Linked DNA regions of Homo sapiens: region 1 is linked to region 2. A link means that fine-mapping ties the variant in region 2 to the expression of a gene that starts in the linked region. Tissue or cell type: subcutaneous fat. Region 2 holds a variant in brackets; the other region holds the start of a gene. All regions are shown on one strand. Distances are from middle to middle.

What was found. PIP is the estimated chance that this variant, and not a neighbour inherited with it, causes the effect.
Region 1: RAVER2 starts here. The variant in region 2 is fine-mapped to the expression of RAVER2 in subcutaneous fat (TwinsUK, PIP 0.95).

Annotation. Positions count from the first base shown.
Region 1 is chr1:64,741,939-64,750,087 of GRCh38, reverse strand. It overlaps RAVER2 (ribonucleoprotein, PTB binding 2), which reads right to left and starts at 5,013. Exons shown (of 12, transcript NM_001366165.2): 1 at 4,667-5,013. The coding sequence starts at 4,915. RefSeq lists silencers at 5,040-5,239, 5,260-5,359.
Region 2 is chr1:64,633,459-64,641,607 of GRCh38, reverse strand. It overlaps CACHD1 (cache domain containing 1), which reads right to left. Exons shown (of 27, transcript NM_020925.4): 7 at 7,348-7,564. Among named protein-coding and RNA genes, the nearest start is that of MIR4794, 58 kb to the right of the region's middle. The variant G/T (reference allele first, on the strand shown) is at 4,506.

The sequences.
Region 1 (8,149 bases), 110 kb before region 2:
AATGTTTTGTTTCCTCTATTACTGATCCTGAATGTTGGCCCTAAGCACTTCACATTGTCTTCTAATTTCACAAGAGACTCTCTTCAAGATTTTAGGGTAAACAAGATGACAAAAACAAAACACATGCACACACATAAGACCTGTAAGAAAAAAAACCTAAGTGAACACAAATAATCTAAGAAGCAAATGCCCCTGTTTTCTCCATTTTGAAACCCCAATGACAACAATATTGAAACAGAACCAGGTTAACCGTAATACAATTTATAGAAATACAATAACACATATATTAGAAAAAATATTAAAACATTACCTCAACCAATCAAAATTCTAAATTCAGTTGCAAAAGACCAGACACACACATATACAATGGCTATGAATAGGAACCAGCATTTGCAACATTACTATTGACTATAAATTATTCATTAAAAATAATTATAAATATTATTCACTATAAAGTACTCACTATAAATACATTCCAAAACAAAGATATAACTATAAATATTCAATTCACAGTGGCATGAGGTACTTGGGGATCTAGGTAGTTTGATAAATGTGGAATAGAATCCAATGCAGGACTGGCCGGGCACGGTGGCTCACGCCTGTAATCCCAGCACTTTGGGAGGCCGAGGCGGGCAGATCACCTGAGGTCAGGCATTCGAGAGCAGCCTGGCCAACATGGTGAAACCCTGTCTCTACTAAAAACACAAAAATTAGCCGAGCGTGGTGGCACATGCCTGTAATCCCAGCTACTCGGGAGGCTGAGGCAGAAGAATCGCTTGAACCCAGGAGGTGGAGGTTGCAGTGAGCCGAGGTCACACCACTGCACTGCAGCCTGGGCGACAGAGTGAGAATCCGTCTCAAAAAACAAACAAACAAACAAAAAATCCAATGCAAGACTAATCAGAAATGAACAGAATCCAATGCGGGACTAATCAGAAATGAGACTGATGGCTGGGTGCAGTGGCTCACACTGTGGTCCCAGCACTTTGGGAGGCAAATGCAGGAGGATTGCTTGAGTCCAGGAGGTCAAGACCAGCCTAGGCAACATAGAGATACGATGTCTCTACAAAAAATTAAAAAAAAAAAAATTAGCCTGGCATGGTGGCTTATGCCTGTAGTCCCAGCTACTTTAGAGGGTGAGAGAATCGCTTCAGCCTGGAAGGTCAAGGCTGCAGTGAGCAGTGATCGTTCCACCGCACTCCAGTCCAGGTGACAGAGCAAGTCCCTGTCTCAAAACAATAAATAAAAACTAAAAAGGAATGAGACTGGAAACGTAGGCAGGGGCCAACACACAAAAAGCCTAAGAATCTTAGACTGCTGTCCTATCATTTCATGCTTTTCAAACTCATATCTGTGTACTCCATGGTAATACAGAAATACAGAGAATCAAAAGTCAAATATAGTACATTTTCCATAAGTGTCAAGTTTATGAAAAAAAATTGGGAGTTAAATGCTATTTTTGTGTTAAATCCAATGTTACTAATAGAATATAAAATTAATATAAAATTCTCAGACAGAACACAAAACTTCAAAGCAATTTCAGTCTTGCAACAGTCTAATTCAGATTCACTGTTCTTTACTGTTAAGGACAATTTGAGGAAAAGTTTGAGAGGACGTGCAGCCAAAGGCTGGTTTTTTATGAGCAGGAGAGTGACATGATCAGATTTGTGCTTCAGGAGTATCCCTCAAGGGAAGTAGCATGCAGAAGGAGCTAAAATGTAAGAAACAGGACAGTAATGAAGGTAGGTGACAAACCGAAAAGTTGTTAACAGTGAACAAGAGACGAAAAGGACTTGAACCAGAGCTGAGGCTGTGAAAACAAAGAGGGCCAGGAAGATTCCAGAAAGCTTAGGCAGACCAGACAGGGCTTGACTGAATGCACAGTAATTATTCAGTGAGAAAGCTTTTGAGAACTTAATATAAAGGTGTTCACTTTTTTTTAGAGCCGGTACTTCTATAAGGTATTTGATAAACATACCTCTAAAAGCTTCCAGTTAAAAATACTTTCAGTATGCCTTTTAATTATAGGAACTATAAAGTTGTGGGATGCTATTATAAATCTGCTATACCAAAAATAAAACAAAATTTGAGATTTATGAAAACTACATTTAATAAAGAAAACACTCATATATTTCAAATGTTAAGAAAAAATTATTGGGTTTCTACTAGTAAGTTATTGATCAGTATTTTCTAGAGACATAAATACACAGTTTGAGAACTAGAGTTATGAATGTCTTTGATCCTTAAAGTGATATTCTAAAATAAAGAAATGAGGCCAGGCACAGTGGCTCACACCTGTAATCTCAGCACTTTGGGAGGCCGAGGCGTGTGGGATCACCTGAGGTCAGGAGTTCAAGACCGGCCTGGTCAACATGGCAAAACCACATCTCTACTAAAAAATACAAAAATTAGCCAGGCATGGTGGCAGGCTTATGTAATCCCAGCTACTTGGGAGGCTGAGGCAGGGAGAATCACTTGGACCTGGGAGGCAGAGGTTGCAGTGAGCTGAGGTCGCGCCACTGCACTCCAGCCTGGATGACAGAGCGAGACTCTGTCTCAGAAAAAAAAAAAAAGAAAGAAAGAAATGAATGAATAAACACAGTCTCTTCTGGAAAAGAACAAGAACTTAGTATTTCAAAAATATCTGATTACTTAATAATTGAACAAAAGCCATATTAACCATTTCATAAGGGTAAATATGTAGTTTTAGCACAGGTGATTTTATGTAGGCCTTACTAGCAAAAAGACACAAAATAAAATAAAGTGAAACTTTCATCAGTAAGTTGACAGTAAAATATAGTCACTAAGAAAAAGCAGACATTATAATTAAGGGAAATTGTTAAAACAAAAAATACAAAAAAATTCATGCAGAACATATGAAAATATTAGTTTAAGTAGATGAAATCTCAAAAATACAAATCCCAGTGTAATTCTGAGAAAGCTTCTATCACTAATTAAAACTGCTCCTTTTATTAGACCCTTTGATATATTTTTCATGTCTATTGCGAAGGGAAATGAGAAAGATACCAACAGCAAAGCAAGAATAGACAGAACGTCTTCAATTTGGGGTCTAAATATATTTAGAATTAATGCAAGGAATTGTGATAACAAAAACAGCTGACATTCTACAAAGACATTGAGATACTTCTCTATTTCTCTCCTCCTAGACTGTCTATACAAAGAGCTGCTATTTTTTAAATTTGTTTTTTTAAAAAATGCCATCTGCTTCTTCCAAGCCTCCTCCTTCCTGAGCTCCCTTACAGTCCTCTATTTGTATGGGCAGGGGAGGCTGCTTCCAAGAAATCAGTCCATTGCAGGTGTCCTTAACAGGTAGTATCACAAAACATTACCTGACAGATGGGAAGTGGACCATGGCGGAATGGAAAGAGTTGAAAGACAGATGAGATAAACAATACTGACAGACACTGCATTTTGAAACAAAATAGCCCCCCATGCCTACGGGTTATAAGGTTATATGTTCATATTTATTGTGAATGGCTATGTAAGGTCTCATTACATAGTAATGGGGCATTGGTCTCATTATTTTATAAGTCACATGGAAGAACTGCCATGCAATTGTCAATAGCCAGCCCTCTTGCAATTTCATGCATCCGGTTACAGGAGGAACTACAAATCCGCAACTACCAGGACAGCCCACCACACTCGGAGCAGTATATAAATTCAGGTTATATGTGAAACATGTGTGAACATCCAGACAGCTAAGAAATCCTGAAGAATCAAAGAAATGATTTCAAGCTTTTGATAAAACAAAAATATATATGCATAGGAAAAGAGAAAAGAACAACATCCCAGGATAACAATGGTTATCTTCAGGTATCAGAAATATGGGTAATTTCTGTGTCCCCTTTGTGCTTCTCTGTCTTTCCTAGCTCTCCTACAATGAGCATGCAGCTTTTGAAATCAGGGGAAAAAAAAAGTTAAATAGATGCAGAGTTTCTAATCTTAAAAGCAACAGTTAATCTGGATTAAATACACAGAGTAGCTATCTTTAAACCTCATCCAAGTCACTGAGAACAAACCCTCCAGTACTGTACTTGGCGTAGCAGGAGGCGGCTGCAAGGCTCCAAGGAGCGCAGCAATAACTCTATTCTGGGGCCTTAGCAAACTGAGAAGACAGAGTTGTTTCATAGAAACTTGGGCAAGTGCTTCTGCAACAACAGCGAAACTCACTCCCAGCTCTCTCGTGCCCCTGCCCCCTATGGCACTCCCGAGCACCGGGGACTATACGTTGGAGCCCTCGCCCCTGCCAAGGTGCTCCCGAAGCTTCGGCCCCCTCTACCCCCGCTCCCCCCCGCAAAATGTGTGCTCCACAACTCACCTCCACTCTCCTTCACCTCCTACTCCTCTACGGCCGTAGGGGAAGGAAAGACCGGGCCGAACTTGGAGGCAGCAGCCCCTGATTCCCGTGACCTTGGAGAAGCCGCTTCGCCACTCAGAGCCTCAGTTTCCCAATCTGCCCCCCTCCCTGGCAGGGCGTCTGCAGGCTAGAAACCCCAAGAACTCAGTCAAACCGAGGGGCCGCTCTCACCACTCGGCGCCGACCCACTCCCCAGGACCGCTCTGAGGCGCCCCCGATCCCAGCCTGGACACGGAGCGCCGCCCCGCCGCCCCTCGGGACGCGTCGCCCCTATCACCGTCCCAGTACCTGGCAGTTGCTGTCCTGGGGCAGGTTTTTCACCAGGATTTTCCTGCGGTTGCTCAGCTCCCGCTGCATCCGCTGCAGTCGCGCGGCGACCTCCTCAGGGTGCAGCGCGGCGGGCATCGGGTCCGGGGCGCCCTCGTGCGCTTCGGCTGAGGGGCCCTGCCCGCGCAGCCCCGGCCCCGGCCCCAGCCCCGCCGCGCTGCCCAGGCCCGCGCCCCCCTCGCCGCCGCCGTCTCCCGCCGCCGCCGCCATCTTCCCGGGCGCCCAGCGGCTGCGGACTCCTCGGAGGCTCCAGGGGAAGCGGAGAGAGAAAGCGGGAGGAGGCCCGGGCGAGGGCGAGGCGGGCAGAGGCCGCAGAGTGGGCCCAACCGCGGGGAAGGGGGGCGGTGGGAGGAGGGAGTAGAGAGAGGCGGCGCCGCAGCCAGCAGCCTGCTGGCGGGGAGAGGAAACCTGAGGCGCCGAGGAGGAGCCCGAGAACCACCTCGCGGGAACCTCCCCCGCCGGCCCCCGGCCCCGGCGCACAGGCGCGCCCGCGCCCGCCTCTCGCGGGTCCGCAGGCGGGGCCGGGCGCCGCCACCCGGACACCTGTGAGGGCGCGGACGCGCAGGCGGGCTCCCCCTCTCTGCGAGGCCTTCGCGAACGCCCAGGGTCGTTCTCTGGGGGATGCGGCCCCTTCGCGGTGGCTTCGCCGGGAGACTCAGCCCCAGGCGCCTGTCCCCGGCTGGCCCCCCATGTGACGCCGCAGCTCTCCCCCGGCTCCCCTCGAAACTCCCGCGCTGGGGCGGCCCGGGGGCTGCGGGCGCGAACTCGGTCTTCCCACACCCGAGATGGGGCTGGAGGGGTGGCAGGAGGGCGCCTCCTGCAGCCCGGCTGGCTCCCGATGGTAACCCTTCTGTTGGTTCAAGAAGAGCATATTTGGCAAAGTTTGAGTTTACAATGAGATTTTCTGGGGAGTAAAAAGAGGGACATTGTGGGAGAAATGTTATGTATTTGGTAAAACCTGATCGTAATGTATTTTGCTAGCTGTGTATGAGAAAGCCTGTGCCCTTCACCTGTCCCTCTGTCCCTGTCATGCAGTTCCTAAAATGTAAAACCTGGGTAGTTGGGTCTGCAACATGGAAAGTGATGCTGAAACAAAGACTAGAATGGAAAAGGAGCTGTGGCAGAGGGGCTGGAGAATACGCTGCTTGGAACATTATTTTAATTGAAACTTGGAGGGAGAGTTACAGTGTAGAACTATACTTAGTCAAACGGATGTCATCAGATCAAACAATCCAGCAGCCTTTGGCACTAGCCCAGGTGACCATCAGCGAAGGGGACCATGCATCTTAATTGTGTAGCATGCAAGTACACTAGCAAAAAAAAAAAAAAAAAAAAAAAAAAGACTTTAACACTAATTAAAAGAAAAACAAAATGTTTTAAAGATTTTTTAAAAATACTACAAATTCAGTCCTTACCATGTGCTCCCCCCAACCACGCATTTCTAAATGCTTTACATATACATATTTATTTACTCTTCATGATCATTCAATTACGTAGGTTTTGTTTTCCTCACTTTACACGTGAGGAAATGGGATCTGTTCTGATTGATTCCAAAGCCCAGTGTTCTGAATAACATAAAATAATTCACCCGTAATCCGTCCACCCAAAAATAATGGCTGCTAATACTTGTATCATTAAAATGATATTCGGCAATACACCCTTCTATACCACCACTATTCCTGGTAACCAAAGGATAGAAACAACCCAAATGTCCATTTATTGATGAACAGATAGGCAAAGCGTGGGATATATATATGCTAAGAAATATTTTTAGCCATAAAAAGGAATTAAGGACCCCTACAAGGTGGACGAACCTCCAAAGCATTAAATGAAAGAAGCCAGAGACAAAAGGTCATATATTGTATGATTCCATGCGTATAAAATATCAGAATAGGTAGATTCATAGAGCGGAACACAGATTGGTGTTTACCAAGGGCTGGAGGAGAAGGTAATGGGTGCAAACATCCTTATGGAATGATGAAAATCTAGTTTTGGAACTAGACAGAGGGGGCAGTAGCCCAATAATATGAATGTACTAAATAGTCACTGAACTATTCACTTTTAAAATATTAATTTTATTACGTGACTATTACTGCATAAAAATGTTTTTGAATGATATTCTGTAGTTTACAGCTCTGTTTTCTGCTTTTTACAGTATGTCTGCTGAATCCCTTTCTATGCCAATGTATTTGAATACCATGGTTTTTATGGCTGCATATTATTCTGTTGAATTAGAAAATTCACTTATTTCCTAGCATTAGTATTTCCTATTATTTTTATCTATTGTAAACAGCACTGAGTTTAACCCTCTATACATATTTGAAGATCATTACTTTTCCACAGAGTGAAGAACTAGAAGCAAAATTTCTGCATCTAGAGTAAGCATATTTAAGGATTTTTTGTATGTATTTACAAACTTACCTCAGTTTTCCCTATCACAAGCATTGTATAAGAGCACTTATTTCTCTGCTTGCATCCATGATATTCTAGTATTAATGTATCATTTTGCTTTTAAATTGTATTCCTTTGATTTTAAAAGGTATACATTTTAAACTCCAATAAGGCCCTATTTTGTAGAGCTGAGAGACTTTGAAAAGTACATTCTTTGAAGTGAAGAAGCATGAATAGCCTTAGCATAGGCTGTAACCTTGAGTCATTCATTATGTTTCAGAACATGTATTTATCCAAATGAGTACCACCTCCTTGGCAAACATTTATTAAATGTCCCTTATGTGCTAGATAATATATAAAGGCAATAAGAAGACAGAAATAGTAAAATAATGCTCCTGTACAATAGGGGCTAAGTCTCACTGAGAGAAAATTATGCAATGATTATAATTAAATATAATAAATATGCAAACGGATAGTGGTCTGAATATAACTTCAGTGATTGCTTTTGCTCAAAACATTCTCCAAAGTGCTTTTTTTTTTTCTTTTGTGACGGAGTCTTGCTCTGTTGCCCAGGCTGGAGTGCAGTGGCGTGATCTTGGCTCACTGCAACCTCCGCCTCCCAGGTTCAAGCGATTCTCCTGCCTTACCCTCCAGAGTAGCTGGGACTACAGGCGTGTGCCACCAAGCCCAGCTAATTTTTTGTATTTTTAGTAGAGACGGGGTTTCACCATGTTAGCCAGGATGGTCTTGATTTCCTGACCTCATGATCCGCTCGCCTCGGCCTCCCAAAGTGCTGGGATTACAGGCGTGAGCCACCACGCCCAGCCCCAAAGTGCTTTTTTGGAATTGACTTTATAATCTACAGCAAATTATTCTGCATAGTTTATGTGGTAGCAAATACTCACCTCTTAGAGATGGGTTTAATTTTTGGAAATAATTAAATGTTATTTGAGGTTAAGTCTGGTGAATGAATCAGGTGTTGATTATGTTTTGGGAGTTATGATAATGTAATTCCAGTTTTGGCCCCAATGGGGACATGATTACAATGTTATC
Region 2 (8,149 bases):
GCATCAGGTAAGGAGATGTTCCTAATATATTTATCAGATGAAAGGAGGCGATTTCCTTTAGGCACCAATGGTTATAGTAATTTAAGCCAATCCAAATGGAAATCTCTCCTGCCTTCTGAAACAGATGATGCAGAACGCGACTTATCCTTTCCTCTGTGATGCAGGAACATCACCATGAATGCTCGTTTCTTGAGGACCAGGCTTTAAAATGATGACTCTTTCGGGCTCTTCAGGCACATAATGTTATTTGCTCCTAGACTAAATATCTTTAGGTAATTTTCATTTAAAAATCTCATCAGTAGAGCAGTGAAACATGGACTTAGAAGCCAGGTAACTGTGTTCAAAGCCCAGCTCTGCTACTTACAAGCTGTGTCTGGGTAATTGAGGCAAATTTCTCAACCTCTCTACAACTAATTTTCTTTGTCTATAAAATGGGAGTAATGACAGGACTGACTTAGTAGTGTTGCTGTGAAGAATAATTGGTTATTTTACGTAAAGACTATCAGCAAAAAGGTGATAAAAAAAGAAGGTAAAAGAGAAAAAAAAGAAACTACAACACACACACAAAATGAAAACAAAAACCATGCCATTGGATTGAAGGAGCACCCCTGAGTTAGAAGTGAAATTATTTTCCAAATAGGGCTGCGAGGTAGAATAACTGAGAGTTAATTTTGGTCCCGTAGAACTTCTGTCAAGTGGGTTGACTAAAAAAAAACAAAGGTGATTAATTTCCTACAATTAGAGATAAATAAGCAGAGGCTAAATGACCACAATAAAAAGAGGGAAGTCAGAGAGCTGGACTTTTACATCTTCTTCCTAATCTGTAATTCTTTGATTTAACATATATATATATATATATATATATAATGTTGAGAGTGTGTGTGTGTGTGTGTGTGTGTGTGTGTGTGTGTGTGTCTGTATATATATATATTTTAAGACTGAGTCTTGCTCTGTTACCCAGGCTGGAGTGCAGTAGTATGATCTCAGCTTACTGCAATCTCCTCCTCCAGGGTTCAAGCGATTCTCATGCCTCAGATTACTGTAGTGGGACTACAGGCACGTGCCATTATGCCTGGCTAATTTTTTGTATTTTTAGTAGAGATGGGGTTTCACCATGTTGGCCAGGCTGGTCTTGAACTCCTGACCTCAAATGATCTGCCCGCCTTGGCCTCCCAAAATGCTGGGATTACAGGCGTGAGCCACCACGCCTGGCCTCAATAAAAATTTTTAGGACATCCTACATATTTATCTTTTTACTGAGAAATATTTATATAATATGTTATACACTTACTTCTTCAGGTTTCTGTTATTGTGTTTTAGTTGAGGTTGCTCTAAAGTGACTGCGGCAGGCAACCTCAAACTTGGTCCCTTAGTGATTCCATGTCTTGACATTCATTCACCTCCTGGGGTAGCTGCCTCCCTTGAGTGTGGCTGGATTTAGTGAGTCACTTATAATGACTAGAATGCGGCAGAGGTGATGGGACATCAAGACAAAGACTAGGTTACAAAAAGACTGTGGCTTCTGCAAGGGGGGCTTTCTCACTCTGAAGAAAGCCAGCTGGCAGGCTGTAAGCAGTCCTATGGAGAGGCAAGGAACAGAGGCCCCTGGAACTGAAGATCCTGCCAGCAAAAGTGTGAGTGAGCTTGGAAGCAGCTATTTCCCCAGTAGAACTTTGAGAAGACAGCAGCTCTGGGCAATAGGCTGACTGCCGTCTCAAGAAACTCGTTGGGCCAGAGGCACCCAGCTATGCTGTGTCCAGATTCCTGAAGTACAGAAACTATGAGACAATAAAGATGTATTAAGCCACAGAGTGTTGGAATAATTTGTTACACAGCAATAGTTAATGAATATAGCTACCCTTTAAAAAATTATCCTAATGGTGAAGACACAAAACTTGAATTTCCTTCAAATTATACATTTCCATTTTAGATTTAAGTATTCTTTATTAGGCAGAATTTAACAGTTAACTTATAATATATGAATGTCATAGATAACTGAACTGAGTTTAACAAAATTTGACTCTAAGAAATAAATGCATTCAAAATTCCTCTTATTTACTCCTAATACTTAATACCAATTTTGATACCTGAACATTCTCTAGTGAACATTAACTGCACATTTAAATTTCACTATTTAGTTATCAGAGATTAGGAAGTGAATGCTGATGCAAAAAGAAAATCCACACTTTAGGAATATTCTTGTCTTAAATTAGATGTCAACAAACCAGATGTCAATATTTTTTCAGTTGTATATACAGTTCAGTAAATTATTTTATAAGGACCCTAAACAGTTCATTTAAACTTCAGACTGAAAAATACAAAAACAAAAATTGCTTGAGTCCCTAGTTGGAGGGAACATATATACATAGATACAGCATGAGGAGGATCTATGGTATGACACAAACCATCTCCTCATGGCAAAAGTATATGTGTGATAAATTCCTGGACACATCTAGGGTGACCTAAAAGAGAACCCTAGTCTCTAAGTTGTCTCACTTAGCCTTATGATTCTGCATAAAATACACTGTCATTTAGAGCTGTTTCTAGGGCAAAGGTCCATGTCTGGAAGGCCAGAAAGCTAGCAGCCCTTGAGCTGCTTTGGTAGCCAAGCACATTTTCTTTCCATTCCAACAATAAGACATACACTCTGTAAGAATCCTCGCTGGCTCTGTCCAACCCCTGACTCCATTCCCACCTTATCCTCAAGAAAAATTGAGTTATTTTTCCATTCTTATCAGATCTGTCAAATTTGGTTTGATTTGTTTTTTTAATGCATTGGGATATTCCCTTTTTAGTCACCCACTTAGAGCAATTTTAGGGGCAAGCAATTACAGGGACTTGGGGTAGAGCAGAGATGCAGCATGTAACTGGAAGAAAATGTAATAGCTCTCCATTTGCTGAGTCTCTCTATAAGCCACCAGGCATGTCTTGGGGTCAACATCAAAAGGGGAAGAGCGACTCATATTTAGGCTTTGCCCATACCATTAGATCTCCACTCTTAACCATCTTTAATTGAGGTTCATTATGATCCTCAACTAATCAGCTCCAAAACAAATTCAGAAGAAACAACTCCAGGATGTTAATGCTGTCAGTTAAAGATCTACCATAAGACTGAAAAAAGGGTCAGAATTGGACAAAAGTTTTAGACCTTCTGGTTGATATAAGGCAAATTAGTGTCAACCAACAATGATTTATGACATGTAGCTTATTTTTATATGGCTACCAATGTGGGCATACACTTTACTTTCATGTACAGACTAACCCTTACAACAATCGTCAAGAGTAGGTCTTATTATTTGAATAACCTCACATGTGGCACCTAAAACAGCACCAGATATACAGTAGACATTAAATAATTGTCTGTAGAGTGAAGAGAAATAGTGATGTATAGAGTTTACACTAGAATAAACTTCTAGGAAGTGTATACAGACCCCTTGCTACACTGTTGCCTAGGCCTTGGCCATCTTTGGGCCTGAGGTCAACTTAGGACATCTAGGGCATCTGATCTAGTTTAGCTGGAGCTAGAAGTCTTATAGGAAACTGAATATCATAATAATCACAGGAAATATGCATTGGATATTTATGATGGAATCCTGGATATTATCACCCCTCCATTTACAGGTGAGGAATCCAGGTCTGGAGAAAATAAAACAATATAGACAAATCCACAAGGTTAGAAAAATTTCAGAGTAGAACACTAGTTGAAATCTATAACCTGCATAACTCCTGGGCAATATTGCCTGAGAGTACCCTGGGACTGCTCCTTAATAAACTGGACAACGCTCATTCCTGAAGTCTTTTCTTTATACAAACTAATCTAGGTTATTTTTTCTCTAAACTGTCAGTAAAAGCTATAAACTAGAGGCCAGTGAGCTAAGCCTTAGAAACATCTTACTTGGGCTAAAAAGGGCTCCTCTGAGTATTTAGAAAACTGTGCCTTCAAAATTTGTCCAAGTCTTTAATGGTCAATCTTCTTGCCATGTTTTTGTTTGCCAACATTAAGAAAAACAACACAGAAAAATCCAGAGGAGAAATGCCTCTCATCAAACCAGCCTCCTGCTCATGTGCAGTGCAGGAATGTCTGTGAGAAGAGATTTAATGAGGTCTCTATTCACAGTTTTAAAGCTGGAACAAATGTCAACATTTGAAAATCAAGGGATTTCACATGAAAATCCAGATTTCTGGCATCTCTTGAAACAGAAGATCTGGCAGCACTGGGCAGACATTCCTGCTCAATGGACTGAACAGAGGAGCAGCTACCCTCTGGATGGTGCATGTGTCCATGTGACCATGTTCTCCAACTCATCCTCATTACCTTCCCCCAGCTCACTTGACTCAAATGCGCTGCCTGGCCACTGTGGACATCTGAGTTTGCAACTGCTAGTCTAACATTTCTCTCCATTATTTGAAAAGTATAATAATCAAAACTAGACTTTAAAGATGGTCTGATGACAGAAGAATTTGGTAGAAAGAACACTTCTAGTGAGGAATGCTGACAGGTGGGT[G/T]GCATTGACAAACAGGCCAATCTGCCTTGAGTACTTGAATTCAGCCTTGTTAACTGACCTTACTGAACCAAGGGCAACTTTACGCTCAGCCACCCCATAATATTGGCTTGTGGATAGCTGATGCTTGCCAAAGCTGGTAGGCCAAATTCTAAGATGATCTAAATGAGCAACATCCTGTATACTGCTGAATATACAGGATGTCCTGTATACGGGACATAACCTGTAACTTGCTTCTAAGAAGAAGAATATGGCAAGTAATGAGCCATTACTCCTGTGATGGTGCTTGCAAAGATGGATGGATGTTTGCCGAGGTCCCTGATAAACTTACATTGAGTTAATCACAAGCGAGAGTAATCTGATTAAATAAATCAAAAGGGAAAGTGGGGCTGATCTAATCAGATGAGCTTGTTAAAAGAGGGCCCAAACCTTCTCTGAAGCCAGGGATTTGAAGAGATGCTCTTCTATTGGCCTTGAAGAAGTAAATGAAATGAGTTTTACAGTTGCAAGGAAATGAACTCTGCCAACAAACGTGTGAGCTCATGTTTGTTGAACCTTAGCATGAATGAACCTTAGCATGAACAAACCTTAGCATGAACCTTAGGACTCTGAATGAACGGTAGTCCCACTGACACTCTGACAGTAGCCTGTGAGACCCTAAACAGAGGACTCAGCTAAGCTGTACTTGGACTCCTGACCCACAAAAACTGTGAGATAACAAATGTATATTGTGCTAAACTGCTAAGTTTGTGGTAATTTGTTATGCTGAGACATAAAACTAACACACCATGTACCATCATTAGTTATAATTACAGTAGCTTCCTTCTTTTGAGGATCCATTATGTGCGAGGCACTATGCTTTGCATTAATCAGTGCTTAGTTTAAACACAGACACAATGAAGGGCTTGGAAATGTATTCTTTAAATTTATCTCAATAGGATACATTAATATTTTCAAACAAAGAAAAAAACTATAAACAGATTTTTTTTTTTTTTTGAGACTGAGTCTCGCTCCGTCACCAGGCTGGAGTACAGTGGCGCAATCTTGGCTCACTGCAACCTCCACTTCCCGGGTTCAAGCAATTCTCCTGCCTCAGCCTCCTGAGTAGCTGGGATTACAGGCGTGTGCCACCATGTCCAGCTATATTTTTGTATTTTTAGTGGAGATGAGGTTTCACCATGTTGGTCAGGCTGGTCTTGATCTCATGACCTTGTGATCCACCCACCTCAGCCTCCCAAAGGGCTGGGATTACAGGCATGAGCCACCGCGCCCAGCCTATAAACAGATTTTTGAAAATAAAAGGGAAAATGAAATAGATTCCTTCAAGTAGTTTCAAAGCATGAGCCCCATTTCAAATATCTTTTCCCTTACTTTAGGATGCATCCTAATTCCAGATTTTCTTTAATACATAAAAATTAAATTAGAGGCCAGGCGTGGTGGCTCACACCTCTAATTCCAGCACTTTGGGAGGCCGAGGTGGGGGATTACAAGGTCAGGAGTTCAAGATCAGCCTGACCAACATGGTGAAACCCCATCTCTACTTAAAATACAAAAATTAGCCAGGCATGGTGGCACATGCCTGTAATCCCAGCTACTCAGGAGGCTGAGGCAGGAGAATCGCTTGAACCCGGGAGGTGGAGGTTGCAGTGAGCCGGGATTGCGCGATCACACTCCAGGCTGGGTGACAAAGTGAGACTCTGTCTCCAAAAAAAAAAAAAAAAAAAATTAAATTAGAGTGCCTTTGTACATCTGAAGGGCCATGCTCATCTAAATGACAGCTGGTTAGAAGAAGGAAGGATCAAGGCAAGAATTCCTGCTGCCCACTTCACGTCCACATGTGCACAAGCAGACTTCCACTCCAAGTCAAAGAGGAAGCAAAGCTGACAATCAGCATTAGAAAGGATGTGGAGATTCCCTTGGGACATAAGTGCAGACATGATCTAAATAAAGGGGCAGGAAGGGGAGGCTCTAAGAGTCAAGAAATTGTACAGACTGACCATCTTTGATTGGAAAAGATGAGAAAAACGCAGTTAACACTCTATAATTAGATGATGACGAAGACAACATATGACAATTTTATCCCAAATCTTTTTTTTTTTTTTTTTTTTTTGAGACAGAGTCTTGCTCTGTCACCCAGGCTGGAGTGCAGTGGCATGATCTTGGCTTACTGCAACCTCTGCCTCCTGGGTTCAAGTGATTCTCCTGCCTCAGCCTCCCGAGGAGCTGGGACTACAGGCAACCACCACCATGCCTGCCTAATTTTTTTTGTATTTTTAGTAGAGATGGGGTTTCACCATATTGGCCAGGCTGGTCTCGAACTCCCGACCTTGTGATCCGCCTGCCTTGACCTCCCAAAGTGCTGGGATTATAGGCGTGAGCCACCGCACCTCGCCCCCAATCAATTTTTTTTTAATCCCTCTACGCTGGTCGCGGTGACTCATGCTTGTAATTCCAGTACTTCGGGAGGCAAAGGCAGGTGGATTGCTTGAGTTCAAGAGTTTGAGATCAGACAGGTCTCAGCCAGTGAAACCCTTTCTTTACCAAAAATATAAAAATTAGCTGGGCGTGGTGGCATAAGCCTGTGGTCCCAACTACTTGGGAGGCTGAAGTAGAAAGATTGCTGGAGCCCAGGAAGTCAAGGCTGGAGTGAGCCATGATCACACCACTGCATTCCAGCTTGGACAGAGCAAGACTCTGTCTCAAGGTAAATAAATAAATAAATAAATACATACATAAATAAATAAATAAAATCTCTCTAAACATCATTGTGTGATCAATTTACAATATATTCCTATTGCCATCTTTATCTACTATGCCTCTAAGTCCTCTGAGAGAACGCACTCACTTGCTTGGAACTTTGTGTTATTGTTTGTACTTCGAATCAGCTGAAATGCCTTTTGGAATCCCACTGCGTGCTGGGTAGGACTGTCTGAAGACTTCACGCTGCTAACAAAGGTGGACATTTTCCTTTTTGTCTCACTGGTGGCTGGAGACAAGAAGGTCTTATAGCACTGGTCTAGTGAGCAAGTCCGGACGGTATCTGCCACAGTTAACACAGAAATCTGCAGGAAAGAAAAAAAAAAAAAACCACCAAACTTGTTATCCTACCGTCTAAAGATTTATTTATTTATGTAACAGAAGAGGCCAAGGAGTAAGAAGGCCTACAGAACAGATTCTGAGAGTTTCAAAATAAATCCCTGGAGCCATCCATCTATCAAATTTGAAAAGGATCCATAAGGATTGGTAAAGTGGGGAAACCCCTAGAGTTTGGTTTTTGTTCCAACATGAAGTGGTAGTATTATGTTCATACATAACATTAAACACACACACAAACTATTTTATGCAGAGAAAAGTCATAGCAAGAATGAACTATCCTGTTTTTCAACCTGGAGGTGAGGGGTGAGGGTAAGAGAGTGAGGTGTGTGTGTTTTAAGCCACTAGGTTAGTGAGCAAAACCTCTGGAGTTGGCAAAGTCAAAATGATGAAGCAGAAAATGTCCACAGGCAATAGATTATCATTAGCTGTACCCACACCTCTCTCTGAGGTGTCCCAGAGATTAGTCAGCCACTAGCGGCTTTCCCTTCTTCCTGACTTCCCAACAATCTTGCAATAAAGTTCAGCCATCCATCAGCATCCAAATCTCCCAC